Regions from separate parts of the Homo sapiens genome. Here region 2 is linked to region 1. The links come from fine-mapping of genetic effects on gene expression. A gene starts in region 1. The other region holds a variant in brackets. All regions are shown on one strand. Distances are from middle to middle.

Region 1 (16,548 bases):
AGTGCCACTCGGGCTTCAAAGCTCCCCTTTCCCCCCATCATATATGACTCTTCTGACTTCCTCTTTTACTTTTATGGGCTGTTATGATTAGATCGGGACTACCAGGATAATCCAGTTTTGATCTCTGTTTATAGTTTATAATCTTAATTCCATCTGCAAAGTGCCTTTTGCCATGTAACACAACATATTCACCGTTCCAGGGTTTAGCATTTGGGCATCTTTTGTGGGGGTGGGCCTTACTTATACTGCTTAACACATACACTATTATTCTCCTAAATGTGATATATATGTGATAATGCAAAACAAGGAATAAATTTAGAATTCATATACCAGCTTTACTCCAGGATTTGACACTGGTTAGCTGAGTACTACTGGGCAAGTTACCTGATGTCTTTGGGTATCAAGTTTCTGAGAAATTTAAATTAGATGACCTCTGAGATTCCTTTTGACTCATACACATTCTCCTAACACTTTGCACATTTTTGTTCTATTTCTACAGATAATCTATGACTTACAATGCCACAATTTTTCTACTTTACAATGATGCAGAAGCAATATGCATTCGGTACACTCCTCAACTTACATTGGGGTTACATCTGATAAACCCAGCATAGGTGGAAAATGTCACATCAATTATGATGGGTTATCAGGATATAACCCCATTGTAAGTTGAGGAGTATCTGTGTATATTAATAGATACTATATACCTTATCTACTTCTAAAAAGCAAATGTGTTAAATCATGTGTCAAATGTCTTTTACTACAGAGTATTATGATAGGTAATGTATACAATCGAACACACTAAAATGGGACCCATTCTAGAGGTTTTAGTCTGTGGCAGCGTTTCTCAGCCTCACCACTATTGATATTTTGGGCTGAGAGATTCTCCTTTGTGAGGATGTGTCTTGTTAATTGCAGGATGTTTAGCAGCATCCCTGGCCTCTACTCACCAGATGCTAGTAGGATCTTTCCAATTGAGCCAATCAAAATTTTTGTTAGAAAATTGCTGCAAGTCCCCTATGTGGCAAATCACAACTAGTGGTAAATGCAGATATATTTAGTTAGATACAAAGATCAAATAGATCATTGAGCAAAGACTGAAGAAAAAATATGAAAAATTATTTTGTTTATACATAGGTAAAGGAAAGAGTGCAGTTAGTGTGAGTGGCAGGATTTGCTCCCTTAGAGAAAATTTTGTCAGAGGAAAAAGTGACCAAGGTGGTATCAATATCAGGAAAGTTTCATAAAAGATACAGAATGTTTGTTTTCATTTTACTTAAAGAAAAGAGAGCTTTATAAAATAGTAGGAACTTGATGTTCTGGTCGCCTAGTGTGGTTTAGGTGATGGTTTTGAGAGATTGCAGGTAAGTAATTGAAGTCCCTGTTAAAACAGCACAGTGACTTAAGAGATGAGTATAAGAAGAGGAAATGGGAAAAGATGGTAATCTGGGTTCCCTGGTGGAGGTCTCCAGAGCAGGAAGACATCTTGCTGTCCTAGTTTTTATAAACAGAAGAGCAGTGATGATGGAGCAGTGCTTGGGGATCCATTTTGAGCAAAGCATTGAGTGGATATGAGGAGGGGGCTAAGCTGAGAAATGAAGAACAGGTAACATGATGGTTTGACTAAGAGATGACCAGGGCTTTTAGAGAAAAATAGTAGAAATAGCAAGAGACTATTAATCATAGCTTACATTTAGTACTTAGTTCTTACTATGTTCAAGGCAGTCTTCTAAGCACTTCACATGTATTAACTTATTTTATTTTCACAACAATGTGTGAGGTGTTATTATACCCATAGAGATGAGGCTGGTGAGGTATGGAGATATTAAGTATTTTGCTTAAAGTCTTGTTTATATGGCAGAGTCAGGATTTGAACCCAGCAATCCAACTCTAGGGCCTGTGCCCAGTGTCTGTATTAAAAATTGATTTTTACACCCTGGTGACATCCGATATAATGCTGACTTTTTAGAGGATGTTTATTTTATTTATAATTTATTCATAGCCTATTTCTAAAATATGAGGAAGCTACAGGCACTTGATAAGTATACATTGCCCTGGTATGGGACATATTTAGACTGAATCCCTTAAGCCAAAATTAGAGGTCACTTCAAATAATAATCATAGGCTTGAAAGAAAAATTATAGATCATCTAATTTTGTGGTTGAATCTATTTTAAAGTATTAATTAATTCATTTAGGATTTTTAAACCAGCTGTTATTTGTAAGCCACTTTGTGAAAGTTAGAGGAGCACACAGTTATCATAGTGATTGAAAACTTGAAGACTTTGCCTCTGGGTCTAAATCCTGGCTCTACCATTTACCCATTAGCTATGGGACCTGTTGGAATTACTTAAATTCTTTGTTCCTCACTTTTAAATGTCAATAATAGTATTCCTGGTGTTGTTGCAAGTGTTACATAAAACAATATATGAAAGTGCTTAGCACAGTGCATAGTGTGTCATAAACTTAGTAGGAGTTAGTTCTTTTTATTTTGTAAGTCTGCTGCTTGTACATCTCATTATCTGTCATAGAATACATTATGTCCGATCTATAATTTAATCACAGAAAAATTAAAATGTGAGATTTAAAACTTATCAGATACAGTGTTAGTGCAGAGAAAATATAAAGTTAACAATGATGATGAAACTTTTAAAGTCTTAGCATTTTATTTTAAAATATCTGCCCATTGTAGTCTTTTGCTTTCTTGATACCATTTTGATAGGTCTGACTCTTTTTTAATGTTCTGAGATATGTAAGATTTTGTATATATTGGATGTCTTCCCAACTCTGTTGAGCTGTTTCCTTTATAGACAAAGACCATGGGATCTTATTTCTCAGCTTCTCAAAATAAAATTTAGGTAAATTCACTGAAATGCCAAGGAAAAACTTAAGAGATGCTGTAGTAGTTAAAGCTGTACTGTCCAATATGTAGTGTTTGGCAGCATGTGGCTATTTAATCTTGGAATATGGCCAGTCCAAATTCAGAGGTACTGTAAATTTAAAATGTATGTGAAATTTCAAAGAGTTAGTATGAAAAAAATTAATGTAACCACTTCAATAATTTTATAGTAATTATATGTGAAATAATGCTTTTGATATATTGGGTTAAATAAAATACATTATTAAAATTATCTTACATGTTTCTGTTTACTTTTTAAATGTGGCTACTAGAAAATTCAAAACTGCATGTGTGGCTCACGTTATAGTTTTATTGGACATTGATGGTTTAGAGAATCACAAGATATATTAGGATATCTGAGGCTTTAAAATACACTGCAATAAAGAAAGCTGCTTAACTTAAAAAGAACTTATTTGACAAAGTGGTTTGATTACAGAACATCTATTAAGCTCTAATGATATAAGGTTCTGAGGATTAATTTTTAGGAAATTAAAGTCTGGAAGAAACACGTAAATAAACCTAGAATTCCTTTTGCTTGCCCTAATTAAGTTGAATATGAAATGTTTTTTTTCCTCTTAAAACTCCAAACATTTCAACTTCCCAATGTTATTTTTATTGGTTAGTAAGAATTAGGTTGAGAATAGTATTTTTGTTTTTTGGTTTCCTATTTTTTGAGAGATTAAATTCCATGGAGAATAAATTATATATTTATTATGGAGTCTATTTTCAGTTAGTTGAACCTTCTAGCTCTTAACCAGAAAGCTGCACTCTTTCATAATGATTTAAGCATTGCTGTAGATCCTCTACCTTTTTCTGAGTGCAAGCTTTCCTCCTCTCGGCCTAGACTACCATGATTTCCTACTAATTAGCTTCCTGCTGCCATTTTTGCCTTGCTCTAATTTATATCCCATATTTCAAAATTATATTTTTAAACAAAAAACAAGCCCTGTTGCTTTCCTGCTTAAAATTCTTCAGTGGCTTCCCATTGAATTTAGGTAAAAAACCCTAAAATCTCTAGTATGACCTACATGATCATCAGTCTGTTCCCCTTTCTTTTTTGATCCCAGAATCTCAGTCTGGCTTTCCTCAGTTACTCCAATCCTTTTTCATTTCCAGGACTTCCATACACTTTGCTATTTGGAAAGGCCTTTACCAAACTCTTGTGAAGATTCCAGGCCTTCCCTCTTGATCAGATTGGCAATTGTCCAGACCAATATATTTTTCTTTGTCTTGGTGAGACATAGTTCATTCCTAAGCAAGGGTTCTTCAGTCCAGGAAACCACATCCCATTTCACTGCCATCCCAGTAACTAGTGCTTCACTTCTCACATCTTCCTTTTTCTTCCAAAGTCTTATTCCATATCTTCATTAGTTTCTTGTCTAAGACTTCATAGATACTAGTTACTCTCTGGGGTCCCTGAAGCAATAGTATTAACCCTCACACAAATCAGTAAATGTGAGTAGTAGTTGGTTAGACGGATCAGTCATGGTAGATTTTTGTGTATTTTAATGTAGCAGATAGGAGATTCAAGCTTTTTTTCTCTCAAGCTTGAGAATACAGAGGGCATAGGTCTGGCTTACCTTGTAAAAAATGCCAGCAGCTAACAATGAAATTCTACCCAACACAGGCTGGGTATTTCTCTGATTTTTTGCCTTGGGTTTACAGTATTCCTAGAGTTACCAGAAAACTATAGTGGACAATTAGCGGTGGATGCCAAGAGAATGCTTGGAACTTTGAGAATGTTGGGGTGGACATTAATCAATTGATATAAGCTTTGGGTATGGAGGACAACGTTATGTTATAATCATTAGAAGAAATTTCAAAGGCGATAAAGAAAAACTATTTCAGAAACGCTCTTCCCTGAAACACCAAGAAAGTGACCTATTATGTTAATATTTTTGTTATATGCAATGTGCCCTGTTAGTTTTGTTAGAAAATGTACATTTTATTATATCCATTTTCAAATCGTTTCTGGTAGTGGGGTTTTAAAATGATAAATGAGGTTCAAAATTAATTCCAGCCTCCTTTCTTTTAGAAACAGTGTTAGATTGAATCTGCATCAGGCGTGTTTTCACATGCTTGGCTTCATAATCTCTCTTCCTCCCCCTATATTGTTTGCCTGGAATCTGCACTAAAGATAAGGCAGAGTGCAAACCTGACTCATTGGCAACCAATCAGAAGAACTTTATGTGGAAAACTCCCTTCGAGGAGGTACAGGCAGCATGAACAAAATTTTTGAAAAAGTGGAAGCAAAGGTAGAAAAATATGGTTGAAATGGCTAAAACAATTGGTACTTGTTTTAAAACTATATTTCATTTCTGATATGAAACCTTATCTTTTCTTTTAAAGAAACACCTAACAAAATATTTATCAGATCAGCACCACAGTAAAGGGAAAAAGACATTAAAAATTAAAAAAGATAAAATAACAAATATTTATCAGAAATGCTCACCCTTCAAAAAATCTGGAAGATTTTGATTATATATTTTTCCAATTATCTTCTGTTTGGTAAATTTCCAAGTAATTGGATAAATAGTTTATATTTACTTTGTTTTAAAATGACTCAAATTTTCAATTAGAGCATAAGCTTTCAAAAACAATCTGGTCAACTAGCAGACTTTTAGCAAATAAGACATATTTCAGAAACAGAAAATTAATTGTTATATTATTTATGATAGTTATACCTAAAACCTAGGTGTTGTTAAATATTTACATGTTTAACACCCAAGTATACTTAGAGATCATTTATTGTACTCAGTGATTTCTAACAACATGATTATTTTGGAACTTGAACCTATACTATTTGTTTTCATTTTTTTGAAACTTTAGGAGAATAACTTTATTTTAAACCTCTATTTTTCAATATCAGAACCAGAACAACCTGAGAAACTTAGAGCCTTCAATATTTCCACACATTCCTTTTCTCTGCACTGGAGCCTACCCTCTGGTCATGTGGAAAGGTATCAAGTGGATCTTGTTCCTGACAGTGGCTTTGTTACTATCAGAGATCTTGGAGGTGGAGAATATCAGGTATAGTTTTCATTATTGTACTTGCCGAGCCTACTTGTATTTATATTTTGCTCCTAATAGGAAAGTTCTTTATTTTATGAAACCCATCTACCACAAAAACTTACTCCTTGTTGGGTTTTTGAAAGCATAAGTTGAAGACAAAAACGTTGATGTCAAACTGATGAGTGTTAAGTTTCAGCATTGGTGGACTGTTACCTTAGCAACATCTATGCTGCTTTTTTTTTTTTTTTTTTTTTTTAAGTTCACCCTGAACCTACAGCCAGTCATCCAAGGGTTCATGAATAGTTTAACAAAGAAAAGGCAGAGCTATTGAGTAATATGGGCTCATTAATTGTGTACTTGCCAGAAGGATCTGTCTTTAAATCATTAATGCAGGCAACATTTCTCTCTAGAGCCATCAATGTGATTCTACTGGCTGAAAAATGTAATAAAGATGGATTTTCTTATCATTTTTCTTTTACTTTTTATTGGGACTTCAGAGACACAGGTATTTCGTATACACTCTTTAAAAACAAGGGCTAAGTCATGGGCTGTAGATTTCTCAAGACTTGAATAGTTGTTCCTTGTGACAGTGAACTAGGATAGATAGAAATGCTGACTTAGGCTGTGATAACGCAGTACGTTTTGTAAGTTTTTATTTTAAAGTCATTTGGTAAAAAGTTATATAACATATTTGTATCTTACAATAATATGGAACTTATTGTGATGTTATAAACAGTGCAGAGTTATATAGTGAAGAGTTAATTTTTGTTATAGTGATAGATTTATTTTAGCTTGCTTGCTTTCCAGAAAGAATTTTAATGCAACTATTTGTTTGTGGTGTTCTAGGTTGATGTTTCCAATGTCGTTCCTGGTACTAGGTACGATATAACCATCTCTTCAATTTCTACAACATACACCTCACCTGTTACTAGAATAGTGACAACAAATGTAACAAGTGAGTATATGTTTTAAATTACTTTGTAAGTAAAGTATTTGGAGTCAGTATAATTCTACTGGATGGAAATACTTATACTGGCAACATGTACATTAAATTCATGAAAACAGTGTAGAATAAGGCAAAATGGAAACAAGAAAGTGATCTGCTTAGAACCTGCATTCTGCTGTTTCTTCAGCTTCCTTTACTTTCAAAGTGCAAAGATAATTACTCTATACTTGTTTGTGAAATAGATCAGAGAGACTGTTAATGCTAACATTTAAATAATACAGAACCATGAAAATGAACTGGCTACATTTGCTCAGGAAGGATTATTCCATTTGTAAGATTATTTCTTGTTTTCTTAGTTTTTCTGTGTAAGCCTTGCGTAAGTGAATTTCTTTTAAAAATGATTTGGCAACAAAAGTATATTCGGCATGTAGTATTTATTTAGTAGCATTCCATTTTTCACATTCTTATAAAGGAATGCTTTTGGTATTCCACATAGTATTTTTTTAATAGTAACAGAGCTGTAGGGAGTGTGAACTCATATTGCTCTTTGGAAATTTCAAATTTTACATTTATAAATACTGTTATTATGTATTTTTGTGAAAATGCAATAATTATTTGACCTTTTAACAAAATGGATTTTTTAAAAATAGAACCAGGGCCTCCAGTCTTCCTAGCCGGGGAAAGAGTCGGATCTGCTGGGATTCTTCTGTCTTGGAATACACCACCTAATCCAAATGGAAGGATTATATCTTACATTGTCAAATATAAGGAAGTTTGTCCGTGGATGCAAACAGTATATACACAAGTCAGATCAAAGCCAGACAGTCTGGAAGTTCTTCTTACTAATCTTAATCCTGGAACAACATATGAAATTAAGGTAATTATTTTGTGTATGACTACTTAGTGTTCAAACATTTCATTCATTTTAAAAGTGTGGGAGGTTTTTCTCACCTTGTCAAGCCTTTACAGCTGAATACAGTCAGTGACTGACAACGTTCACAGTCATGGCCTCACACCCACCTGAGATTTTAAAACTTGGTAAAATGTTATTGTGTCTTTTCATTTCAATTTTATGCATATTTATATATTACCTATTTCATTTTTTCTATGAATATTTTTGCATATATTTATATACATGTATGAATATAATACAATACTCTAGGAAATAAAAATTATGTAAAGTTAAAGAAGGAAAACTTAAATGCAAACAAGAGGCCAGGGTAGTTTGAATGCAGGTATGTAAACCACAGGATGTTACACAGTTATTAAAAATTGACTTGCAAACTTTATTCTCCAAATTCCTAGAAACCACAGTAAAAAGGGCAATAAATCTGTTATACAATTTACGTATGAAAATTGTATAATAATTGCATATGGGAGCTCAAGTTTTTTTTTTTTTTGGTGCTTTAGACTGGAAAGAAAGTCTTCGTTGAAGGATTAATAGCTGCAGGACTGGATTTTGTAAACTTCTTTCCATAACAGTAAAATAATAAAAGTATACTTAGTAAAAATAATTTTGCCAGGTTTTGAGATATTGTGGTCTAAGAACATGGCCTTGTTCTGTATATAAAATTTAGACTCCAATGAAATGTCTTTTTTTTAAATTATTTTTGATTCAGGGGACATGTGTGCAGGTTTGTTACGTGGGTATATTGTGTAATGGTGGGGTTTGGGCTTCTAGTATACCCATCACCCAAATAGTAAACATTGTACCCAATAGGTAATTTTTCAATCCTCACCCTCTCCTACCCTCCCCATTTTTGAAATCCCGTGTTTATTATTTCCATTGTTATGCCCATGTGTACTCATAGCTCCCACTTGTAAGTGAGAATGTGTGGTATTTGATTTTCTATTTTTGAATTATTTCACTTAGGATATGTTCTCCAGCTCCATCCATGTTGCTGCAAAGAACATGATTTTATTTTTTATGCCTGCATAGTATTCCATGGTGTATATATACCACATTTTCTTTACCCATATGATAGATACTTAGGTTGATTCCATGACCTTGCTATTGTGAATAATGCTGTAATAAACATGAGTGATGGTGTCTTTGTGATACAATGATTTCTTTTCCTGGATAGATACATAGCAGTGAGATTGCTGGGTTGAATACGGTAGATCTATTTTCAGGTCTTTGAGAAATCTCCGTACTGTTTCTCATAGAGGTTACATTTCTAGCAACAGTGTATTAGTGTTCCCTTTTCTCTGCATCCACACTGCCATCTGTTTTTTTGACTTTTTAATAGTAGCCATTCTGATTGGTATAAGATGATGTCTCATTGTGGTTTTAATTTACATTTCTTTGATAATTCCTAATGTTGAGCATTTTTTATATACTTACTGGCCACTTGTGTGTCTTCTTTTGAGAAATGTCTGTTTATGTTTTTTGTCCACTTTTTAATGGGGTTTTTCTCCTTGTATTGTTTTCATTCCTTGTAGATTCTGGATATCCATCCCTTGTTGGAAGCATAATTTGCAAATATTTTCTCCAGCTCTGTAGGTTTTCTGTTTACTCTGTTAATTATTTCCTTTGCTGTGCAGAAGCTTTTTAGTTTAACTAAGTCCCATTTAAGTCTATTTTAGTTTTTGTTGCATTTGCTTTTGATGTCTCAGTCATAAATTATTTGCCTAGTCCAATATCCAGAAGAGTTTTACCTAGTTTTTCTTACTAGTATTTTTATAGTTTCAGGTTTTATATTTAAGTCCTTAATCCAGAATGTGCTAATTTTTGTATATGCTGAGAGCTAAGGATCCAGTTTCATTCTCTTGGATATGGCCAGCCAGTTTCCCCAGCACCATTTATTGAACAGAATATCCTTTCCCCATTGTTTATTTTTGTCAACTTTGTCAAAAATCAGTTGGTTGTAGGTATGTGACTTTATTTCTGGGTTTTCTATTCTCTTCCATTAAAGTATATCTGTATTTTTCTATCAGTACTGTGCTATTTTAGTTACTATAGCTTTGTAGTATAATTCGAAGTCAGGTAATGTGATGCCTCCAGATTTGTTCTTTTTGCTTAGGATTGCTTTCATTATTTGGGCTCTTTTTTGGTTTCATATGAACTTTAGGATTGCTGTTCTAATTCTGTGAAAAATTACATTGCTAATTTCATAAGAATTGTGTTGAATCTGTAGATTTCTTTGGGTGGTATGGTATGTTGATTCTTCCAATCCAAGAGCATGGAATGTTTTTCCATTTGTTTGTGTCATCTCTAATTTATTTCATGAGTGTCTTGTAGTTCTCCTTGTAAAGATTTTCACCTCCTTTGTAAAATGTATTCCTAGATATTTTATTTTTTTTGTGGCTATCGTAAATGGGATTGAATTCTTGATTTCATTCTCAGCCTGAATGTTATTGGTGTATAGAAATTCCACTTATTTTTGTACACTGAATTTGTATCCCAAAACTTTATTGAAATTGTTTATCAAGTCTAGGATTATTATTTTTGAGTTGTCGTTAGAGTTTTCTAGATATACAATTGTGTCATCAGTGAACAAAGATAGTATGCTTCCTGTTTTCCAATTTGGATGCCTTTTTAAAATTATTGTACTTTAAGTTTTAGGGTACATGTGCACAATGTGCAGGTTAGTTACATATGTATACATGGGACATGCTGGTGTGCTGCACCCACTAACTCGTCATCTAGAATTAGGTATATCTCCCAATGCTATCCCTCCCCACTCCCCCCACCCCACAACAGTCCCCAGAGTGTGATGTTCCCCTTCCTGTGTCCATGTGTTCTCATTGTTCAATTCCCACCTATGAGTGAGAATATGCGGTACTTGGTTTTTCGTTCTTGCGATAGTTTACTGAGAATGATGATTTCCAATTTCATCTATGTCCCTACAAAGGGCATGAACTCATCATTTTTTATGGCTGCATAGTATTCCATGGTGTATATGTGCCACTTTTTCTTAATCCAGTCTATCATTGTTGGACATTTGGGTTGGTTCCAAGTCTTTGCTATTGTGAATAGTGCCGCAATAAACATACGTGTGCATGTGTCTTTATAGCAGCATGATTTATAGTCCTTTGGGTATATACCCAGTAATGGGATGGCTGGGTCAAATGGTATTTCTAGTTCTAGATCCCTGAGGAATCGCCACACTGACTTCCACAATGGTTGAACTAGTTTACAGTCCCACCAACAGTGTAAAAGTGTTCCTATTTCTCCATATCCTCTCCAGCACTTGTTCTTTCCTGACTTTTTAATGATTGCCATTCTAACTGGTGTGAGATGGTATCTCATTGTGGTTTTGATTTGCATTTCTCTGATGGCCAGTGATACTGAGCATTTTTTCATGTGTTTTTTGGCTGCATAAATGTCTTCTTTTGAGAAGTGTCTGTTCATGTCCTTCACCCACTTTTTGATGGGGTTGTTTGTTTTTTTCTTGTAAATTTGTTTGAGTTCATTGTAGGTTCTGGATATTAGCCCTTTGTCAGATGAGTAGGTTGTGAAAATTTTCCCCCATTTTTTGGGTTGCCTGTTCACTCTGATGGTAGTTTCTTTTGCTGTGCAGAAGCTCTTTAGTTTAATGAGATCCCATTTGTCAATTTTGTCTTTTGTTGCCATTGCTTTTGGTGTTTTAGATGTGAAGTCCTTGCCCATGCCTATGTCCTGAATGGTAATGCCTAGGTTTACTTCTAGGGTTTTTATGGTTTTAGGTCTAACATTTAAGTCTTTAATCCATCTTGAATTGATTTTTGTATAAGGTGTAAGGAAGGGATCCAGTTTCAGCTTTCTACATATGGCTAGCCAGTTTTCCCAGCACCATTTATTAAATAGGGAATCCCTTCCCCATTGCTTGTTTTTCTCAGGTTTGTCAAAGATCAGATAGTTGTAGATATGCGGCATGATTTCGGAGGGCTCTGTTCTGTTCCATTGATCTATATCTCTGTTTTGGTACCAGTACCATGCTGTTTTGGTTACTGTAGCCTTATAGTATAGTTTAAAGTCAGGTAGTGTGATGCCTCCAGCTTCGTTCTTTTGGCTTAGGATTGACTTGGCGATGTGGGCTCTTTTTTGGTTCCATATGAACTTTAAAGTAGTTTTTTCCAATTCTGTGAAGAAAGTCATTGGTAGCTTGATGGGGATGGCATAGAATCTATAAATTACCTTGGGCAGTATGGTCATTTTCACGATATTCATTCTTCCTACCCATGAGCATGGAATGTTCTTCTTTTGTTTGTATCCTCTTTTATATTTCATTGAGCAGTGGTTTGTAGTTCTCCTTGAAGAGGTCCTTCACGTCCCTTGTAAGGTGGATTCCTAGGTATTTTATTCTCTTTGAATCAATTGTGAATGGGAGTTCACTCATGATTTGGCTCTCTGTTTGTCTGTTATTGGTGTATAAGAATGCCTGTGATTTTTGTACATTGATTTTGTATCCTGAGACTTTGCTGAAGTTGCCTATCAGCTTAAGGAGATTTTGGGCTGAGACGATGGGGTTTTCTAGATATACAATCATGTCATCTTCAAACAGGGACAATTTGACTTCCTCTTTTCCTAATTGAATACCCTTTATTTCCTTCTCCTGGCTAATTGCCCTGGGCAGAACTTCCAACACTATGTTGAATAGGAGTGGTGAGAGAGGGCATCCCTGTCTTGTGCCAGTTTTCAAAGGGAATGCTTCTGGTTTTTGCCCATTCAGTATGATATTGGCTGTGGGTTTGTCATAGATAGCTCTTATTATTTTGAGATACGTCCCATCAATACCTAATTTATTGAGAGTTTTTAGCATGAAGCATTGTTGAATTTTGTCAAAGGCCTTTTCTGCATCTATTGAGATAATCATGCGGTTTTTGTCTTTGATTTTGTTTATGTGCTAGATTACATTTATTGATTTGTGTATATTGAACCAGCCTTGCATCCCAGGGATGAAGCCCACTTGATCATTGTGGATAAGCTTTTTGGTGTGCTGCTGGATTCCATTTGCCAGTATTTTACTGAGGATTTTTGCATCGATGTTCATCAAGGATATTGGTCTAAAATTCTCTTTTTTGGTTGTGTCTCTGCCTGGCTTTGGTATCAGGATGATGCTGGCCTCATAAAATGAGTTAGGGAGGATTCCCTCTTTTTCTATTGATTGGAATAGTTTCAGAAGGAATAGTACCAGTTCCTCCTTGTACCTCTGGTAGAATTCGGCTGTGAATCCGTCTGGTCCTGGACTCTTTTTCGTTGGCAAGCTATCGCTTATTGCCACAATTTCAGAGCCTGTTAGTGGTCTATTCAGAGAGTCAACTTCTTCCTGGTTTAGTCTTGGGAGGGTGTATGTGTCGAGGAATTTATCCATTCCTTCTAGATTTTCTAGTTTATTTGCATAGAGGTGTTTGTAGTATTCTCTGATGGTAGTTTGTATTTCTGTGGGATCAGTGGTAATATCCCCTTTATCATTTTTTATTGCATCTATTTGATTCTTCTCTCTTTTCTTCTTTATTAGTCTTGCTAGCGGTCTGTCAATTTTGTTGATCCTTTCAAAAAACCAGCTCCTGGATTCATTAATTTTTTGAAGGGTTTTTTGTGTCTCTATGTCCTTCAGTTCTGCTCTGATTTTAGTTATTTCTTGCCTTCTGCTAGCTTATGAATGTGTTTGCTCTTGCTTTTCTAGTTCTTTTAATTGTGATGTTAGGGTGTCAGTTTTGGATCTTTCCTGCTTTCTCTTGTGGGCATTTAGTGCTATAAATTGCCCTCTACACACTGCTTTGAATGCGTCCCAGTGATACTGGTATGTTGTGTCTTTGTTCTCGTTGGTTTCAAAGAACATCTTTATTTCTGCCTTCATTTTGTTAGGTACCCAGTAGTCATTCGGGAGCCGTTGTTCAGTTTCCATGTAGTTGAGCGGTTTTCAGTGAGTTTCTTAATCCTGAGTTCTAGTTTGATTGCACTGTGGTCTCAGAGACAGTTTGTTATAATTTCTGTTCTTTTACATTTGCTGAGGAGAGCTTTACTTCCAACTATGTGGTCAATTTTGGAATAGGTGTGGTGTGGTGCTGAAAAAATGTATATTCTGTTGATTTGGGGTGGAGAATTCCGTAGATGTCTATTAGGTCCGCTTGGTGCAAAGCTGAGTTCAATTCCTGGGTATCCTTGTTAACTTTCTGTCTAATGTTGACAGTGGGGTGTTAAAGTCTCCCATTATTATTGTATGGGAGTCTAAGTCTCTTTGTAGGTCACTCAGGACTTGCTTTATGAATCTGGGTGCTCCTGTATTGGGTGCATATATATTTAGGATAGTTAGCTCTTCTTGTTGAATTGATCCCTTTACCATTATGTAATGGCCTTCTTTGTCTCTTTTGATCTTTGTTGGTTTAAAGTCTGTTTTATCAGAGACTAGGATTGCAACCCCTGCCTTTGTTTGTTTTCCATTTGCTTGGTAGATCTTCCTCCATCCTTTTATTTTGAGCCTATGTGTGTCTCTGCATGTGAGATGGGTTTCCTGAATACAGCACACTGATGGGTCTTGACTCTTTATCCAATTTGCCAGTCTGTGTCTTTTAATTGGAGCATTTAGTCCATTTACATTTAAAGTCAATATTGTTATGTGTGAATTTGATCCTGTCATTATGATGTTAGCTGGTTTATTTTGCTCGTTAGTTGATGCAGTTTCTTCCTAGCCTTGATGGTCTTTACAATTTGGCATGATTTTTCAGTGGCTGGTACCGGTTGTTCTTTTCCATGTTTAGTGCTTCCTTCAGGAGCTCTTTTAGGGCAGGCCTGGTGGTGACAAAATCTCTCAGCATTTGTTTGTCTATAATGGTTTTTATTTCTCCTTCACTTATGAAGCTTAGTTTGGCTGGATATGAAATTCTGGGTTGCAAATTCTTTTCTTTAAGAATGTTGAATATTGGCCCCCACTCTCTTCTGGCTTCTAGAGTTTCTACTGAGAGATCCGCTGTTAGTCTAATAGGCTTCCCTTTGTGGGTAACCCGACCTTTCTCTCTGGCTGCCCTTAACATTTTTTCCTTCATTTCAACTTTGGTGAATATGACAATTATGTGTCTTGGAGTCGCTCTTCTCGAGGAGTATCTTTGTAGCGTTCTCTGTATTTCCTGAATGTGAATGTTGACCTGCCTTGCTGGATTGGGGAAGTTCTCCTGGATAATATCCTGCACAGTGTTTTCCAACTTGGTTTCATTCTCCCCATCACTTTCAGGTATACCAATCATACGTAGATTTGGTCTTTTCACATAGTCCCGTATTTCTTGGAGGCTTTGTTCATTTCTTTTTATTCTTTTTTCTCTAAACTTCCCTTCTCACTTCATTTCATTCATTTCATCTTCCATCACTGATACCCTTTCTTCCAGTTGATCGCATCGGCTCCTGAGGCTTCTGCATTCTTCACGTAGTTTTCGAGCCTTGGCTTTCAGCTCCATCAGCTCCTTTAAGCACTTCTCTATATTCGTTATTCTAGTTATACATTCGTCTACATTTTTTTCATAGTTTTCAACTTCTTTGCCTTTGGTTTGAATTTCCTCCTGTAGCTCGGAGTAGTTTGATCGTCCGAAGCCTTCTTCTCTCAACTCGTGAAAGTCATTCTCTGTCCAGCTTTGTTCTGTTGCTGGTGAGGAACTGCGTTCCTTTGGAGGAGGAGAGCTGCTCTGCTTTTTAGAGTTTCCAGTTTTTCTGCTCTGTTTTTTCCCCATCTTTGTGGTTTTATCTACTTTTGGTCTTTGATGATGGTGATGTACAGATGGGTTTTTGGTGTGGATGTCCTTTCTGTTTGTTAGTTTTCCTCCTAACAGACAGGACCCTCCGCTGCAGGTCTGTTGGAGTTTGCTAGAGGTCTACTCCAGACCCTGTTAGCCTGGGTACCAGCAGCGGTGGCTGCAGAACAGTGGATTTTCGTGAACCGCAAATGCTGCTGTCTGATCATTCCTCTGGAAGTTTTGTCTCAGAGGAGTACCCGGCCTTGTGAGGTGTCAGTCTGCCTCTACTGGGGGGTGCCTCCCAGTTAGGCTGCTCGGCGGTCAGGGGTCAGGGACCCACTTGAGGAGGCAGTCTGCCCGTTCTCAGATCTCCAGCTGTGTGCTGGGAGAACCACTGCTCTCTTCAAAGCTGTCAGACAGGGACATTTAAGTCTGCAGAGGTTACTGCTGTCTTTTTGTTTGTCTGTGCCCTGCCCCCAGAGGTGGAGCCTACAGAGGCAGGCAGGCCTCCTGGAGCTGTGGTGGGCTCCACCCAGTTGGAGCTTCCAGGTTGCTTTGTTTACCTAAGCAAGCCTGGGCAATGGCGGGTGCCCCTCACCCAGCCTCGCTGCCACCTTGCAGTTTGATCTCAGACTGCTGTGCTAGCAATCAGGCAGACTCCGTGGGGGTAAGACCCCCTGAGCCATGTGCAGGATATAATCTCCTGGTGTGCCGTTTTTTAAGCCCGTCGGAAAAGCGCAGTATTCGGGTGGGAGTGACTGGATTTTCCAGGTGCCATCTGTCACCCCTTTCTTTGACTAGGAAAGGGAACTCCCTGACCCCTTGCACTTCCCGAGTGAGGCAATGCCTCGCCCTGCTTCGGCTCACGCACGGTGCGCTGCACCCACTGTCCTGCACCCACTGTCTGGCACTCCCTAGTGAGATGAACCCGGTACCTCAGATGGAAATGCAGAAATGGATGCCTTTTATTTCTTTCTCTTGCTTGATCGCTCTGGCTAGGCCTTCCAGTACTGTGTTCAATAGGATTGGTGAGAGTAGACATC
Region 2 (16,548 bases), 250 kb after region 1:
AAAGTTTTGAAACATCAAATTAAACTACATTACAGAAAAAGAAAAATCCCAGCCCTTATAAAATTAAACCAAGTAAATACATTTAATAATGTAACATTCACAATACCCGATATTCAGTTAAAAATTACTAGGCAGAAAAAAGCAACCCATAACCAGGAGAAGGATCCATTATTAGAAACACACATATAAATAAAAATGGATATAATTAGCAGACAAGAACTTTTAATATAGCTATTAAAATATGTTAACAGGGGAAACAAATATAAATATTACTGGAAACTACAAACAATTAAAATAAACTTCTAAAGCTAAAACCCATAATAGCTGAAATCAGAATGCTACTGGATGCAATTAAGAGCAAATTAGACACTGGAGAAGAAACAAATCAGCAAACTTAAAGAACAGGAATAGAAATGATCTAAAACTGAAGCATAGAGAGAAAACAGGCCTGAAAACACAATAAAGATTCTCAGTGACCTGGGAGATCAATTCACATTGTTTATCATAAGTGTAATCAAATTACAGAACTAGGGGTGGAGGAGGGCAGAAAAAATACTTGAAATAATGTCCAAATATTTCTATTTGAAAAATATGAATCTATAGATTCAAGAATCTCAAAGAAATCTAGGCAGATAAGTGCACACGCATGCATACACACTATCATTACTCTCACTTTTGTAGCTACAATAATTTCTGCATAAGCACACACACATACACACACACACACACACACACCCCTATACCAAGGCATATCATGATCAATTGCTTGCATAATCAAGGCAAGTCACTGATAAAGATAACAATTTTAAAGGCAACCAAGAAGAGAGATACCTGTTCTGGGGATGACAGAAAAGAAAATATTCTGGCTACTATTCAGAAACAGTGCAAACCAACTGAAAATAGAATGACACATTCAAAGTGCTGAAAGCACTTCCTCAAACTGACCAAAAGCAATTACGAAAAAAGCTGGAGCTAATATTATGCTCAATGGTGAAATATTGAAGGCTTTCACCCTAATATCAAGAAAAAGTCAAGGATGCCTGCTCTCACAACTTGTATTCAACATTCTACTGGTGTTTCTAGCCTTTATGATAAGGCAAGAAAAAGAAATGAATGGAATATATTGTGTAAAGGAAGAAATAAAACTGCTTATGTGAGTAGAGAAAAATATATCATGTATGAGAAAAATCTTAAGAAATCTACCAAAAAAGCTACTAGATATAACAAGTAGCTTTAAAAAAAGAGTCAAAGGATATAAAGTCAAGATACAAAAATCTACTTCTACATACTAGTAATGAACAACTGGAATATTGCAGTTAAAAATACCATTAACAATAGCATCCAGGGGGAAGGGAGAGCATCAGGATAAATAGCTAATGCATGAGGGGCTTAATACCTAGGTGATGGGTTGGTAGGTGCAGCAAACCACCATAGCACACACTTACCTATGTAACAAACCTGCAAGTCCTCACAGGTATCCCAGAACTTAAAATTAAATTAAATTAAATTTGTAAAAAAGCATCCACAAACATGAAAAGTTTAGGATACATTTAACAAAATCTGTGCAAGATCGATATACTTAAAAGCCACTAAACATTAATGATGGGAATTAAGATTAAAATAAATTTCTCCAAAATTCATTTTCATAAACTCAAAACTCAATATTGTTAAGATGTTAATTCTCTTCATATTGATTTACAGATTTGGTGAAATCTCAATAAAAATTCCATAGGACTTTTTTAAAGAAATTGATGAACTAGTTTTATAGTTTATATGGTGCAAAAGACCTAAAGTGACTAAACACTTTAAAATAGAACAAAATTGAAAGATTTACACTATAGATCTATAGATTCATTTACAGAAAAAAAGGTCCAAAAATAAACTTGCACACAGATGGTAAATTGGTTTTCAACAAAGATGATAAAATAATTCAACAGGGAACATATAGTCTTTCCAAAAACAGTATTGGAACAACTAGATGTCTATACGAAAAATCACGAATCATCACCTTTATACAAATACCCACAAAGATTAAATTGAAATGGATCTGAGACCTAAATGTAAAGGCTAAAACTATTTAGCTTATGGGGATAAAAGTAAGAAAAATTCTTCATGAACTTTCAATAAGCAAAGATTTCTTAGTATACAAACCAAAAATAAAACATCGAGGAAAAACTTGATAAATTATCCTTCATCAAAGTATAATTTCTTGCTCTTCAAAAGACACTGTTAAGAAAATAAAATAAAATAAAATAAAAATAAAAAAGAAAATAAGGCCAGGTATGGTCTCTCATGCCTATAATCTCAGCACTTTGGGAAGCCAAGGTGAGAGGGTCAATTGAGCCCAGGAATTTGAGACCAGCGTGGGCAACACAGGGAAACCCCATCTCTACAAAAAATTTAGAAATCAGCTAGGTGTGATGGCACATGCCTGTGATCCCAGCTACTGGGGAGGTTGAGGTGGGAGGATTGCTTCTTGAACCCAGGAGGTCAAGGCTGCAGTGAATTATGATCATGCCATTGCACTCCAGCCTGAACAACTGAGTGAGACTCTATCTCTAAATAAATAAATAAGCAAATAAATAAATGAGATGGAAAGTCAAGCCACAGGCTGGAAGAATAGCAGAAAATATTCACAATACATGTAATAGGATACAAGTCCTGGTACTTATATCCAGAATATATGTATATTTACAAAGTATAACACACACACACACACAGATAGCCAGTATGTCAAATGATATTTAGCACCAATACAAAAGATGTTCAATACCATTAGTTATCAAGGAAATGCAAATTAAAATCATGAGATACCATCACACACCCAATGGGATGATTAAAATTAAAATTATCAAAATATCAAGTCATCTTGGTAAGGATTTGGAGCAGCTGGAACTGGAAGTATAAAATGGTACAATCCACTTGGAAAACAGTTTGGCAGTTTCTCGTAAAGTTAAACATACTACCATTATTACCATACTACCCAACATTACCACTCCTAGTCATGTATCTAAGAGAAATTAAAATATACTTTCAGAAAAGAAGTTGTATTAATGTTCTTAGCAGCTTTATTCATAACGGACAAAAATATAGGGTCCAAATGACAATCAACAGGAGTGGATAAACAAGTTGTGGTCTATTTGAGCAATGAAATACAAATTGGCAATAAAATAGGAATAAACTACTAATACACACAAGAGCAGGGAGAATTCTCAAAAACATACGCTGAGTGAAAGAAGACAGACACAAAAGAGTACCTACTGTAAGAATCCATTCTATGAAGTTCTGGAATAGTTCAAACTAATCCATAGTGATAGAAATTGAATAAATGATGACTACTTGGGGTATGGTGTAAGTGGGGAACTGAATTTAGTCGACCAAAGGGAACATTTTGGGAATGATGAAAGTGTTCTCTATCTTGAATGGAGTGCTGTTTACACAGGCATATTCATGTGTAAAATCCCTTAAGTTGTATACATACAATGATTGTATTATTTTATGTATACTATAAACCAATACAATTTACTAAACAGAAAAATAATGAAAAAATAGTTTTGAGACATTTGTATGCCATTCATATAATGTTTAAAAAATACAACAGGTAGTACATTTTTTGTGGATGCATCCATCTTAGTACAGACATAAAATCAAGGGAATGAATGGGAATGTAAAAATTCACATCAGAATCATGGTTTCCCCTGGCAAGGGAGCAATGCAGGTATGGAGATAGATTGTGATGGAATCAGATTGGGATACACAAGGGCTTCCAATGCATTTGTAAATTTTTGTTTTAAAATTTGAAGCCTATCTGTCAACATTGTCAGATTTGCTAAAATTAAGTAATGAGTAAAATATTTATTGTATTATGCTTTATAGTTTTTTGTTTGATGAATTTTATAATTAAAAAAACAGGTAATTTTAAATTTTAATGATTTATTAAAATAAATGACATAAAGTGTTTATGGATTATTTTCACAATAATAATAATTCAAGCTCTCCTGGTTGAATGAGTACAACACTGAGAAAAATATTTACTTACTTCTGTTATATGCTTACTCCATTCCCAAAGCACTAACAATCAGTCTTTTAAACATTTTAAACATTAAAACTTGATATGCTCCAAGTTCTTCCCAAAGAATTAATTATGCTCCTATTCACTTAGTATTTATAACCCCATGAACTGCCTTGAAAAATATGATGAATTCACTTGCTGGACTCTGACACTGGAACACAGAGTTGGTTTCATCAATCTGAGTGTACTACATTCACAAAGTTGGTAAATAGTAACAGGATTAGTACTGACTCCCTGGGCTATTAAATCAGAAGTTTTACCTACTTACGTGTTAAAGATTATACTTAAAATTGTGATATGAATAATTGTGATACATTTAAAATTGTAATAATTTTATTTACTGTAATTAATAATAATCTTCTTTATTGAATCATTACCATGTGCCGGGCACTCTTCTAAGGGCTTTACAAATATTAATTCATTAACCTCATGACAATTCTCGGATAATAGCACTAGGTGCTATTATCTGCCTTTTACAGATAGGGAAACCAAAGCAAAAAGAGGTTAAATAAACTGCCCTAGATTATACATTAAGTAAATGAAAGAGCCTAGACTTGAACACAGGAAGTCTGGCTTCAGAGCCTGTAGTGTTTGCCACCATATCCTGTTATGTTACATGGAGACCACTAGATATATGATAATATCTACTTGGACGTAGTACATACACATAAACTCTATGCCCTCTTTCAAGAACAGAAGCTTATGGATAGTATCTGTAATAGCTATTTTATGCAAATTAAGTTATTCATGTCATATAGTCAGTGATAGTGCCAGCCTTTGTATTTGGGTGTCTAGTACTATACTCTTTCTCTTATTCACTATCTCATCCAATATACATTTGGTCCAAACCAAATTGTATGGTTTGTTTGCTCCAACTCTACACTTGCCAGATTTAAATCTAAAGCTCTGAAACGCTGAGATTTAAGTCTAAATCTCAGCTCTGATCATTTCACTGATCTATTCAGTAGCCCTTCATTGACTATTAAATTAAACTCACTTTTTAAAAATATCTTCCCACAGTATTCTTTTTTCTAGAACTAAACCAAATTAGAATATTTGCTGCTTACTAAAACACATCCTACATGTTCCCAAATACCATGCTTTGGCTCCTACATTTCCCTCAATAACTAAGACCTTTCTTAGAACTGAATTCTGAAGGCGTTTTTGCAGGTTCTTATCCACTGGCATTCTCCATTTACTAGATTGTCAACTGGTTGTGAACAAAGACCAAGTTATTCTCATAATTTTATCCACGTAACACTTAAATAACATCTTACTCATGACAGAAACTTAAACAAAATGTTCAATTGACAGTTTGCCTTAGCAGAAGTAAAATAATGTCTGTGTGACAGTGTATTTTCCTACCAATTCACGCATGCTAAAATATCTTTGCAGTCAGGGAACAAACAAACACTTGTAGATCAAAGATAAATGAAGGTGAAAGAGCAGGGAAAACTGGCATACAGTGATTAATGTATCATTTGCTCAGGATTATCAGTTATCCACAATGTAACCAGGAACTTGATAGTGTGTAAAAATCCTTTAAACAACTGAAGCCAACAAAAAAGAATTCTGTATAATTGAGCAACTTATTAAAAAGTAGTTCATCAACAGTCTTTTTTTCTTACATTATAAATACTTCAACAAACTTGGTTTTCCAGGTCATGGCAATCCAGAAACAGCAAAATTGATGGCTTATATACTTATTTTGTGCACAAACACACACACACACACTTCCTTATTAACAACACATATATCTTCAAAACCTAAAAATTTGGGACCATTTATTGAAATCCAACATATTTCAATAGCCACTGGATAAAAAAAAAATATTACAACACCAGCCTCTGCATCTTTAAGAAAACATTTTTTTTCTCTTTCAATTACATTATGTTTACTGTTTAAGGAGACAGAAATGGGTTTGACATATTATTTAAAAGATCTCATCAAAACTTATTAGACTGAAAAGGTAGGGTAAGGCAGTTTCAGAAGAAAGCTGGAACAAGATATCCCACAGGGCTGAAGCAGGTGGTAGAGATGCAGAGGCAGATCTGGATTCAGTTGCCAATGTGCACATGCATGGAGGCAGACAGCAGGTCCAGAGAGTACAGTAATGAGCAACAGATGGTGAACCCAGCTAGGACACATGAGAGTAGACTAGCAAGAGGTAGCATATCATAACAGGCAGGTGAAGCAAGGCTAAAGAGAATCCAGGAACTGGCACTAGGCAGGTCCAAGTGGCAGGGAAGCAGGTCAGCAGGGAGCAAGATTCTACTCGCCAGCTAGACTCAGTGGTGGCTCACTTCCTCAGGGTGATATGCAAAGTAGAGACCCAGATGGGTTTCAATGGCCCCTCATATCCTGCATATGAATATATAGAGATATATATATACACACACACACACACACACATATATATAAATATCGTTTACAGTGCCTAAGAGTACTAAATAAATGGTAACTCAGTGAGTACATGAATGAATTTTTCAATGTTTTAAGTAATTTAGGGTACTAAAGACATTTTAGAGGCAGGGAATCATCAAAATCAGGTACCAAAAATGTATTACCACTAATCTAACCAAAGCAGTAATAAAGTAAACAAAAATAACATAAGTCAAAATTCCCATTATTTGGTACAAAAATATTGCATACCTAGAAAATACAGATAAATAGACTGAAAAAGATATATACGTAATAAGAAATTCTCTAATGCAGGTGACTGCAAAATAAATATATAAAAATCATAAGTAGTCAATTAACATGAGTGAAAGATAAAATAGGAAAAATTAGTTCACTGACAATGTCCAAACTATAATAAAATATTGAGAGGCTAAACTTATAGTGCATTTCTAAAGAATACTATAACATAGGGAAATGCAAAATATGATTTTTTTAAGTAAGAGAGGCCTATTATAAAGAACATCATTATTCTCCAATTACTTCATAGGTTTAGTATGCCAATTTAAAAGTCTTCATAACATTTAATTGTTCCAAATTTGAAAAAAAAAAAGTTAAGTTCATCTGGAAGAATAAATGAGAAATGGGTTTCAAAATTCAGAAAATAAAAATGATGAAAAAAGAACTGCCCTTTCATGTATTAAAATGGTTTATTATCTAAACAAGTTAAAAGTATATTGTTGAGATAACATACTTTATCTCAATGAAAGCAACCAAGGCCTCAATGAAACACACAGGTTTTTCTAACACAGTCTGTGTTAAAAGATTTTAATAGTAAGGAAATATCACCCACCAGTGGAAAAAACAAAAGTTATTAAGTAAATGATAGTAGGGAACTAAATGATTGTAGGTAAGGAAAATAATGGAGTCGTGTAAGATATAACCTCATCACCAGTAACCAAAATGGATTACGGAGAAAATAAATCTTAGTATGTCCCAAGGCCTTGTTTCTCTTTAAAGTCCATAAATAATTTCCCCCTTCTCAGGGTAATTAATGTCCAGTGAATCCTCCAACCCCAATTTTAGATATTTACATTTTCTCCACAATTTATCAGAATTCAAAGATGTGTATCAAGAAACTAAACCTAAAGTTTAGGTCAATAGACTACTTTGAGTAGCCTTACTTCCTGGTACAACAAATTTAATAAAAGCAGCCTATAATATAATCTGTTATAATTAGGAAGGACTTGTTAAAATAAAATAAAATAAAATAAAATAAAATGAAAACCAGGTTTGAAAAATTTCTAAGCAGACAAACCCAGCTAGCCTTGAAAGTAACCTTAATCTTGCTTGGACTGCAAACATAAGCAAAACAAGTTGGGCCATTTATTGTAAATGCCAGAATCATTAAAAAGAAAACAAGTTCAACAAATCAGAAGCTGCCAGCAATGGAACAGACCAAATAGAGCAACTATATAAGTGTAACCACTCAAATATTTTCAATTTCTTGCTTCCCAGTCATGCTATAAAAGCCTTCCACTTGGATTTCTTTAGTAGAGCTCAAGACGTCCTTCAATTTGGTGTTTCCCAAATGTATGTACCACTGTTTGCCCAAATAAACTCTAAAATTTGTATAGTGTCTCAGTTTATCTTTTAACAGACCTTATTTGTATAATGGAATTTCCCAGGCAATTGAAGCTTATTTTTGGGAGCAAGCTACCTGGTTTCCTGCTCCAACATCCTCGTCTCTATATTTTAGAAGCAACTCAATCTAACCAGAAAGCTCAGCCTCACTCTGGAAAGAA[C/A]TTAGTCCTTATCTAGGAAAATATTATATTCCTTCAGTACTCTTAGATCAACATCAAGAAAATCTTTCTGTAAATGTAGTGCATGCCTTGTTTCCCAGTCCTAGAAACTAAGATTTGGTCTTATTCACCAGATGCACTTCTTCTACTTGTGCCTAAATTACTGATTTTATTTTATTGTCTCAAATATTTATTTTCTCATTACAAAATATAAAATTATTATACAATTTGTACAAATGACAGAAAAATCTAAAAAGTAAAATGAAATTATATCACGTTAAACTCTAGTACCTAAGGGTAACTCTTATTAACAATTTGGAGTGATGTTTCCAATCCTTTTTTTTCTGGTCATGGTCACTAAAAGAAATGTAAGATTTCATGAAGATACCTAGTGACATAATTGGGGGATTTATGGCATTGGTTAGAATTATGACCATTTTGCTTTTAAGGCCTGGGCTTGAATTAAATGAAATTTATAAGAAACTATTAAATAAGTGAGTCCATTCAAAAATTGGCTAAATTAACTCAGTTGAAAGAAAAGGCTTGTTTTGCTGAGTTTTTCATGATTATGAAGTCTTTTCTAAGACAATGAATTACTATTTTTAAAAACATGTTATATTAGTCTTATTTTTTTCAATTTCCTTAAATTTTTTTTGAAATAATATTTCATTTGTCATGGGAAACTATAAAGAAATATGTTACATACTTACTTTAATGAACTGTATGCATACTGACTACAATCTAACTCTACCAAACAGGAACTTATTACTTGATTTTTAAACAATATGCCACATAATCTAGCAGTAGACATTATAGTGATATAGAATACTTTGTACTTAAGTTCTCATAGTATATCAAGGTAGCTGGTTATACACCAAGAAAAGGTCCTTATGTTCTAAAGCAAATAAAATTACAATTTGAGAGATGTTTATGCAAATTTAATTCCAATAAAGAATTATTTATAAAACAATATGTGAGGCTAAGTGATTTATCCTAGCATTTCTTTTCTGTATGTTTGTTTTCACTTTAAATGCACAATATGAAGATCTGGGGCTGATATTAACTCTCTTAGGGATATTGTGAACAAAAAGTCAATACATCTGAAGAACTTTAAATAATAACTGGCTAACAGTACTCAATACATACTGGTGGTATTTATCACCTCTATCATCATATGAGAATTTGGATTTTACAGTAATTGAATCCTTGATACAGTTTTATTTCTTCTTGACATTGTATTCTAGAACCCATGTTTTAAAGTAGAACTTTAAGGAAGAAAAGAAGTTGTATTACATACAGTGGCCAAAGTGATATATAATTTAAATGATACTTATTTCTACTAATGTAAAATCATTTAACTGTGTATTTGAAGGTAAATTTATGCTTACTAAAAGCCAAGATTCATTCCCAGTTGAAATAAAAATAATTTTAGATAGGAAATTTCATTAATCTTCTTTTCATGACATATATTAGAATGAGAGAAGGGTTTTTAATCACTTGCTAGCTTTTCTTTTATCTAACTTAACTGTATCTGTCAATCATTGAACATAAAATAGGTGTTGGGCATTGTGCTAGGCCAAAAGTTCTCAGTAGTGGCTGCACATTTTAATCATTTTCCATTTCCCAGGTTATTCTATTGTGCAGCCAGGTTTAAGAACCATTAGGCTGGACACATTTAATCTCATCAGAATCCCTACTAGCATTTACAGAAATACTCTGGTTCGGTTGGGCTGCAGTGGATCTTGGGAATCCAAATTTTAACAAGTTCCCCCAGGGTTACAATTGATCATAGGATTATTACTTAATAAATCTTGAGTCCTGATTATGTCAATCGCACTATATAGGCTAATGTGATCATTTCACAGGCCTCTCAGAAATGAGCTACCCAGTATGTAACACTTAAGATACCATTTTTTAAAAATGAAGATGTACTGGACTAAAAAGTGTTTTACAAAATTATTTTAAGGTAAACTAAAATATTTTTATTACTACAAATCAACAGCTTTGTAAAGAAAAAATGTGAAGGATACAAAAAGAAGAGGTAAGGATTAGTTTTCCACGTGGGGTTCCATACTGTTCTGACTATCTTCAGGTTCCCATCAAACTCTGAACCAGCAAGGTTTGGGAGGTGACAAGGTAGCAACACAGATTAGCTTCTGATGACTGTTTTGAAGAGTGAGCAAAGGTAAATAACCACATGTCTTGAGACCCTTATACTTATGAGCCCAGCTAGATGAAATAATGACTTATTGACACAGAGACCAAGGACATCAAAGATGCCCAGGTACTCAGGAGCAAGGTGACTAGGAACAAGTAGCCCACCACTGCTTTTAAAAAACACAGTCAATAAATAATCATACTCATCTATGTAACCATAGCATGAAGGTCTGACTGGTGTACTAAAATTTGGTTGTGACAGCTAGACTTGTGTCAAAAGCTTAGCAATTTTAGCTACAGAAAAAAAAAAATGTCTTGTTACAAAATGTATTTTGAGTAGAGAACTTCTGGTCCCATAGAGGTTTCAGGAACTTCTACCAAAACAAAAGTTTTGGCGGAATTATTTTCAGACAGTAAATGAGCATTATGTCTTGCATTGATTTAAATATGCATCTTTTGGGCAAAACACCAATAAAATTTAAGCAAATACCAAATAGAAATAGAAATTTAAAATTCTAAGAATAAAAAATGCCATTTCAAGACATTCTCATAGATGATAGAAGGTTTTGACAGTTATTACCACTTTCACTCAATCACTCACAAAAATTACATAGTGTCTATTTTAGAACAGATAGTCTTCTGCAATCTATATTGATTATTGCATATTTCCTGCCCTATGTAATGGGTGATATGAACAATAAGCACTATAAGGCAATGTGATAAGTGCTAGGATATATGTAAACATAAAATCAGATACTATAATCAATACAAGCTATGAAAAGTGAATATAGTTTGATGATCCACACTCCACAAATAGCCTCCTTATGAATATTTCCTTACAGACTGAATTTTGAAGTAGAAAAATGTAGGAAACAACATCAGGAACTTCCAAGCTTTCTGTGACTTATGTGCTAACTTTTCTACCAAATTGTATTCCCAAAGAAGCAAATCATTAACAAGGAGATGTACTTTACCCTAAAGCCTTCTGTGTCAACCCAGTATTTTAAGCATTTTAAATAATTCCAGAGTATGCATTGATTTTGAAAACCCTGTGATTTTTTTAGAGTTGATTTTAATAGACGTCTAGTGGTCAATTCTGAACTCAGAATGGCTTCACAATCCCACTTTCCCCCTTATAGCTTTTCCCTCTCTCCCCCACACTCTCCCTCTTCCTCCTTCTTTTACTCTCCTCTTCTTTCTCTCATTCTGTTTCTTTCTTTCTCCATTATTTGTCTTTAATAGACTATTCAAAGTCCCAGAGTCCCAGAGCCTTATAAAGGTCTTGCTCTGCACTTCTGAAGGCACATCTAAATTACTGCACCCTCAGAACAATTTCATGCTAATCTTATAAGATTTTATAAGATCGTACTTCATTTTTCCCTGTGTCTGAGGTTATTGCTATTATGATGTACTTATAAAACTCTTTAAGTAACTTACCACTGCCAAAAATAGTATTACAATATTATCATATATCCAAAAGCTGATTTTAATAATCACTTTGATCTTCAAAAGATAACTTATTCATTGAGAAGTCTGGGATTTTCTTCAAAGTCAGAAAAATATAAGCTTTTTGGTAAATTGACATGGATAAGATTAAAGAAAAATTTCTGCTATTAGAGATTTAGAAACTATTTAGAATACCAAATCCTCAAAGAAGTAAAAATAAAGTATGGAAACATAAGAAGTCTAGGTATTTTAGAATCATATACCTAAGATTAAAGAATTAATATCTGGAAAAGAGTTCATTCTTTTTAAAAAGCAGCATATGTTCTTAGTGCTACTGCATCGTAACATAATTCAAAATCTAAAAGACTAAAGCATATTAATGAATCTGAACAAAATAGTAAAAGAATATCGAAACCATCAAGCATCAGTTATTACACTTATATCTGTTTTAATCATAGCAACCACAAAACAATTGCTGTCTTTTGGCAAGCCTCAAATATAAACGTTTCCAGGAACAGCACGACAGATCGGTAAAGTGCAAAGCAACTCTTGATTCTTGCATTGTTTCTTTGTGATGTGATGTTTCTCACTAAACCCAAACAAAAACTGACACAAGAAAAGAGCGTATTGTGCCATGGAGAAATCATACCACTGCACGGTCCAACTTTATTTTATTACAAAACAAATGTTAGACACATCTGCAGCCATTCCTTATATTATTCATTTTTATGCCCTTTAATCCTCAAAACGAGGGTGCTTTCTGATCACGAATAAAAATTTGCAAAGTCGAGCATATTTCACAAAGGAATAAATAATCATTATCTGTTGCCTGTGATCTGTTAGTGCTTCCAGTCATGGCTGTGATATGAGTGTACTCACACATGTGTGCACACACGCCTACTAATAGAAAAAAAAAGATTTTCTGTAAGCAACTTATAACCAGGAATCAACTGGCAGGTGTGTGAAAAGATTCAGGTTAGGAAAGGAGGCACTGGCATGGATTTATTGCTGTCATGACCATTAAGTCTTGATAGAACTAATTGATTTTGCTCTTTTCACTTTTTAAGAGGTCGAGCTGAAGTTCCCTTTTATGAGATTGGGTAATGGAACAAGTGGTGAACTGAACTAAGGACTTTGTGACATACATTAGAACTCTGGTGTTATTTGGTCCTCTGAACACAGAAGGAATGTCCAACAAAGAGCCATATCAGAAAAGTATGTAAAATCTTAAATTGCTACAACAGCTGAGCGAAGAGAATAGTTCTATTGAAAGAAAATTAATGAACAAGTGTCAAAATGGACAGTTGGTGTCAATTCCTAGAGGATTTGGAAGTGAGAAGTGGAGTTGAGGAAACCATGTTAATAAGCTCTTGTTTGCATAATAAGAACGTCGTACCTCACCAAATATCCATCATAGGAGTCATGCTTGTCACAGTTCACATTAAAGCGTTTCACAGAAAAGAATGCTTTACTATGCGTCATGGAAGCACCTTATTTTGTTGATCTCCAACAGCATATGATCATCTATTTTCGTGGAAACAAATTTAGAAAGGAATTCTACACTCAGCTTATGTGGTAATTCTTGGATCAAACTGTGCCCATCATTTTGAGAAAGAAAAGACCCTTTCAAGCCCAAGCTAACTTATTTCTAAGTGAGTTTAAAATATGTTAACAAACCAAGATGTTTTGTTTTAGCCTCTTTCAGTTGTAATCCCATTTAAAACTAAATTCTCTCTATTCTGTCAACTAATAAATAAGTAGTAGTTTTTTTAAATTTTTGATTATTAAATCTCACTAAAAGCATAATTAACACAAATTGAAAATTTCAAGTGTATTCCATCTCTATCTTAGGAATACTTTATGTGAAAGGTATTTCTTAATAAAGGCTTTCTTTATAAATGGCTTACATAAAATAATTTGCTAAACTTCAGTATAATTTATATTAATAAACCAAATATAGCAAAAATAATTATATCAAAATGTAATTTGTTTCAGCATATCTAATGGGAGACTAAGAAAATAAAATTTCTCTTCCAAAAGATCCTACAATGCCTTTTTCCATGTGCTCCTTTGTAGAAAAAGTAAGATCAGTATTTGCTTTTATTTTTCTCTTTATCTCTATCAACCATATTTACATTTAGCCTTCTCAATAGTTAGACACCTCAGTAATTTCAAGTGAGCATAATATCCTCAAAACATGTGATGTCCAATTGGAAAAGACTGTCCTATCCATGAGAGTTAGATATGGCTAGTTGTTCACAGGATCTGTGTATTGGTTGTAGACACCTTCTACCTGCTAAGATCCCTTGCTCGCTCTCAACCCTAGTCCTTGTTATTACTGTAAGTGGAGCCGACTAATTGGGGAAAAGAGAAAGACAGGATATAAGAGCATTGTGTAACTTAGTATTTGGAAAATGTGTTTTCTCCACATTTACCCTACAATAGTGCACTAAATTATTCCATCTTTTTCCTTTTGCTTCTCACTGTGTGTTTTAAAATAATGAATCAGACCATGTGTTTTGAGTATCTTCACTTGAACATCTATTTTGTGACCTCTGAGACAGGCTGCCTGTACGTAGTAGTGTACATGGAAAATACCATTGTGTCATTATTTGCTAATGGGACAATACGTAGGTCCAAATCTCAGCCATCAGTTACCAACATGCCTCTTTGGGACATGTGACTGAAAACAAAACAAAACAAAACAAAAAAGAAACAAAAAAACAGAAGTTAGCCTGAAGTTTCCCAAATAAACACTCAAAGCTCCTGTAAGGTAGGTAACTCCTAGAAGACTATTCTTTTGGTCGCTGTCAGGAGATTCAGAAGAAAAGCTTCTCTTTAATTATATGAATCAGTGCCATATGAACCAGGTTTAAGTATATAGCATGCAATCTTGGGCAAATAGATTAACTTATCTTTGCTTTGCTTTCTGTATTTTTAAAATGAAATCAATTATATTATACACTTGGTAAAATATTGTGAAGATGTAAAGAGATCATTTACTTAAAGTACTTCAACATATAAGGGCCTGCAACTTATTTTTTTTCAGAGTTGAACAATGGCTACAATTTTACAAAATAAAAAACTTATATATATTACTACTTTTTATTCTTTTCTTTTGGAAGCACCAATTCTTCAACATTATATTGCTACAAAAGAAGCAGCATAAATCTCGCGATAGCTTATACTGAAATACAAGAAAGTGAAAAAAATCTATTTAAATGGCTTAATAAAAAGGCCATACTAATATTGTAAAATTCACAGACAGTCTTTTCTAATATGACAACACTTAGCCCAAATCATATAAAATCAGGGAAGATAAAATTTAATATGATTAATTTTATATGACCAGTGACATGTTGAACATGTAATGCCTGTACTTTAAAAAGCTCCAGATTATATGCAATTTAAACACATTATAACTTTCTATCACTCACTAACCTAAAAACTAACATGTATTATCCACAGACAAAAATGTCTGGACTTTCAAAAAAAACGTGAGATGTAAGTGAATATCTGATTAAACAACTTTTTCTTCCAAACTGGTAGGGAAACTTTATGGAATAAATGTGTTTGTACAGTGGTGGCTATCTGTCACGGTAGACCCTGACACAGCCATTAAAGCACCAAACATTTTGGGCAATATGTCATAACCAGCCAGTTGGAGGGCAGTAACAAAATACTTGGCTAACCATACTATACTAGAGACATTTGTTTATCTTAGCAAGCTAGTAACACCAAGCACCACTATAATTGGGGTCATCTGAATATCATGATTCATTGCATTTTTAAAAGAATTAAACATCATAGGAAAATCATTCCATATATTTTGGATTTTGAACATTTAAAATATTAGTTGTTTTAGCATCATAAAATGTTTATATAATATTTTCTTTGAAAAAGGCAATATATACATAATATTATATTGTATTTATATTTAAATAAAAAGTAACAAAATTTGCATTCTATCATATGACATTATGTAAAATTTTGTTCATATAGAAAACAAAAAAGTAGGGTTTGATTTATTGAAGCAACAAGGAATGGATGATTTTTTTTCCTTCAATCATAGCTGAAATAATTTGTGTTGAATGTTGTTTATGTGCTAGATACTGTATATTGGATTTTATTGACATTATTTAACCTTTAAAACAATATTATAAAGTAATATTATTTCTATTTTATAGACTAGTTAATTAAAGCTTAGAAAAATTATAAAACATGTCCGATGTCAAATGATTAGCAAGTAGTAGAGCTGGGCCTAGAACTTTGTCTAATATCAAAACCCATATTTATAATCACAGTAATTTTTTAAATAAAAAATCTATACTTTATATATCCTGCACTCTGTACATTGTTCTTATTTATGAATAGATGTATGTCAGTTTCTATGGGCTTTTTCTGGGAAATAGAATGACAAACTCATTCTGACTTGACCAGGATTTCCCCAGTTTTAGCACTGAAAATCTGGCCTCCTGGGTACCTGCTCAGTCCTAAGCAAACCTATGCCAGTTGGCCCCTCACCAGGAAAGAATACTTAACCTGGAAAAAATTCTAATGGTTTCCAAATTTTAATCTTAAATTCAGAAATCTGAATAAAAGCGGGGGGACGGAGGTGCAGAATTATGAAGAAGGCTTCATGTTTTGCACTGAGGAATATGTGTTTCTCAGGGA

The links. PIP is the estimated chance that this variant, and not a neighbour inherited with it, causes the effect. A credible set is the group of variants that fine-mapping cannot tell apart.
Region 2: its variant is the best candidate, but not a certain one, in a credible set for the expression of PTPRQ in fibroblasts (GTEx, PIP 0.85).

Annotation. Positions count from the first base shown.
Region 1 is chr12:80,437,985-80,454,532 of GRCh38, forward strand. It overlaps PTPRQ (protein tyrosine phosphatase receptor type Q), which reads left to right and starts at 6,251. Exons shown (of 45, transcript NM_001145026.2): 1 at 6,251-6,415; 2 at 6,757-6,865; 3 at 7,507-7,733. The coding sequence starts at 6,362.
Region 2 is chr12:80,686,048-80,702,595 of GRCh38, forward strand. All of the region lies in intron 1 of LOC105369867 (a long non-coding RNA gene), which reads right to left. Among named protein-coding and RNA genes, the nearest start is that of MYF6, 13 kb to the right of the region's middle. The variant C/A (reference allele first, on the strand shown) is at 8,275.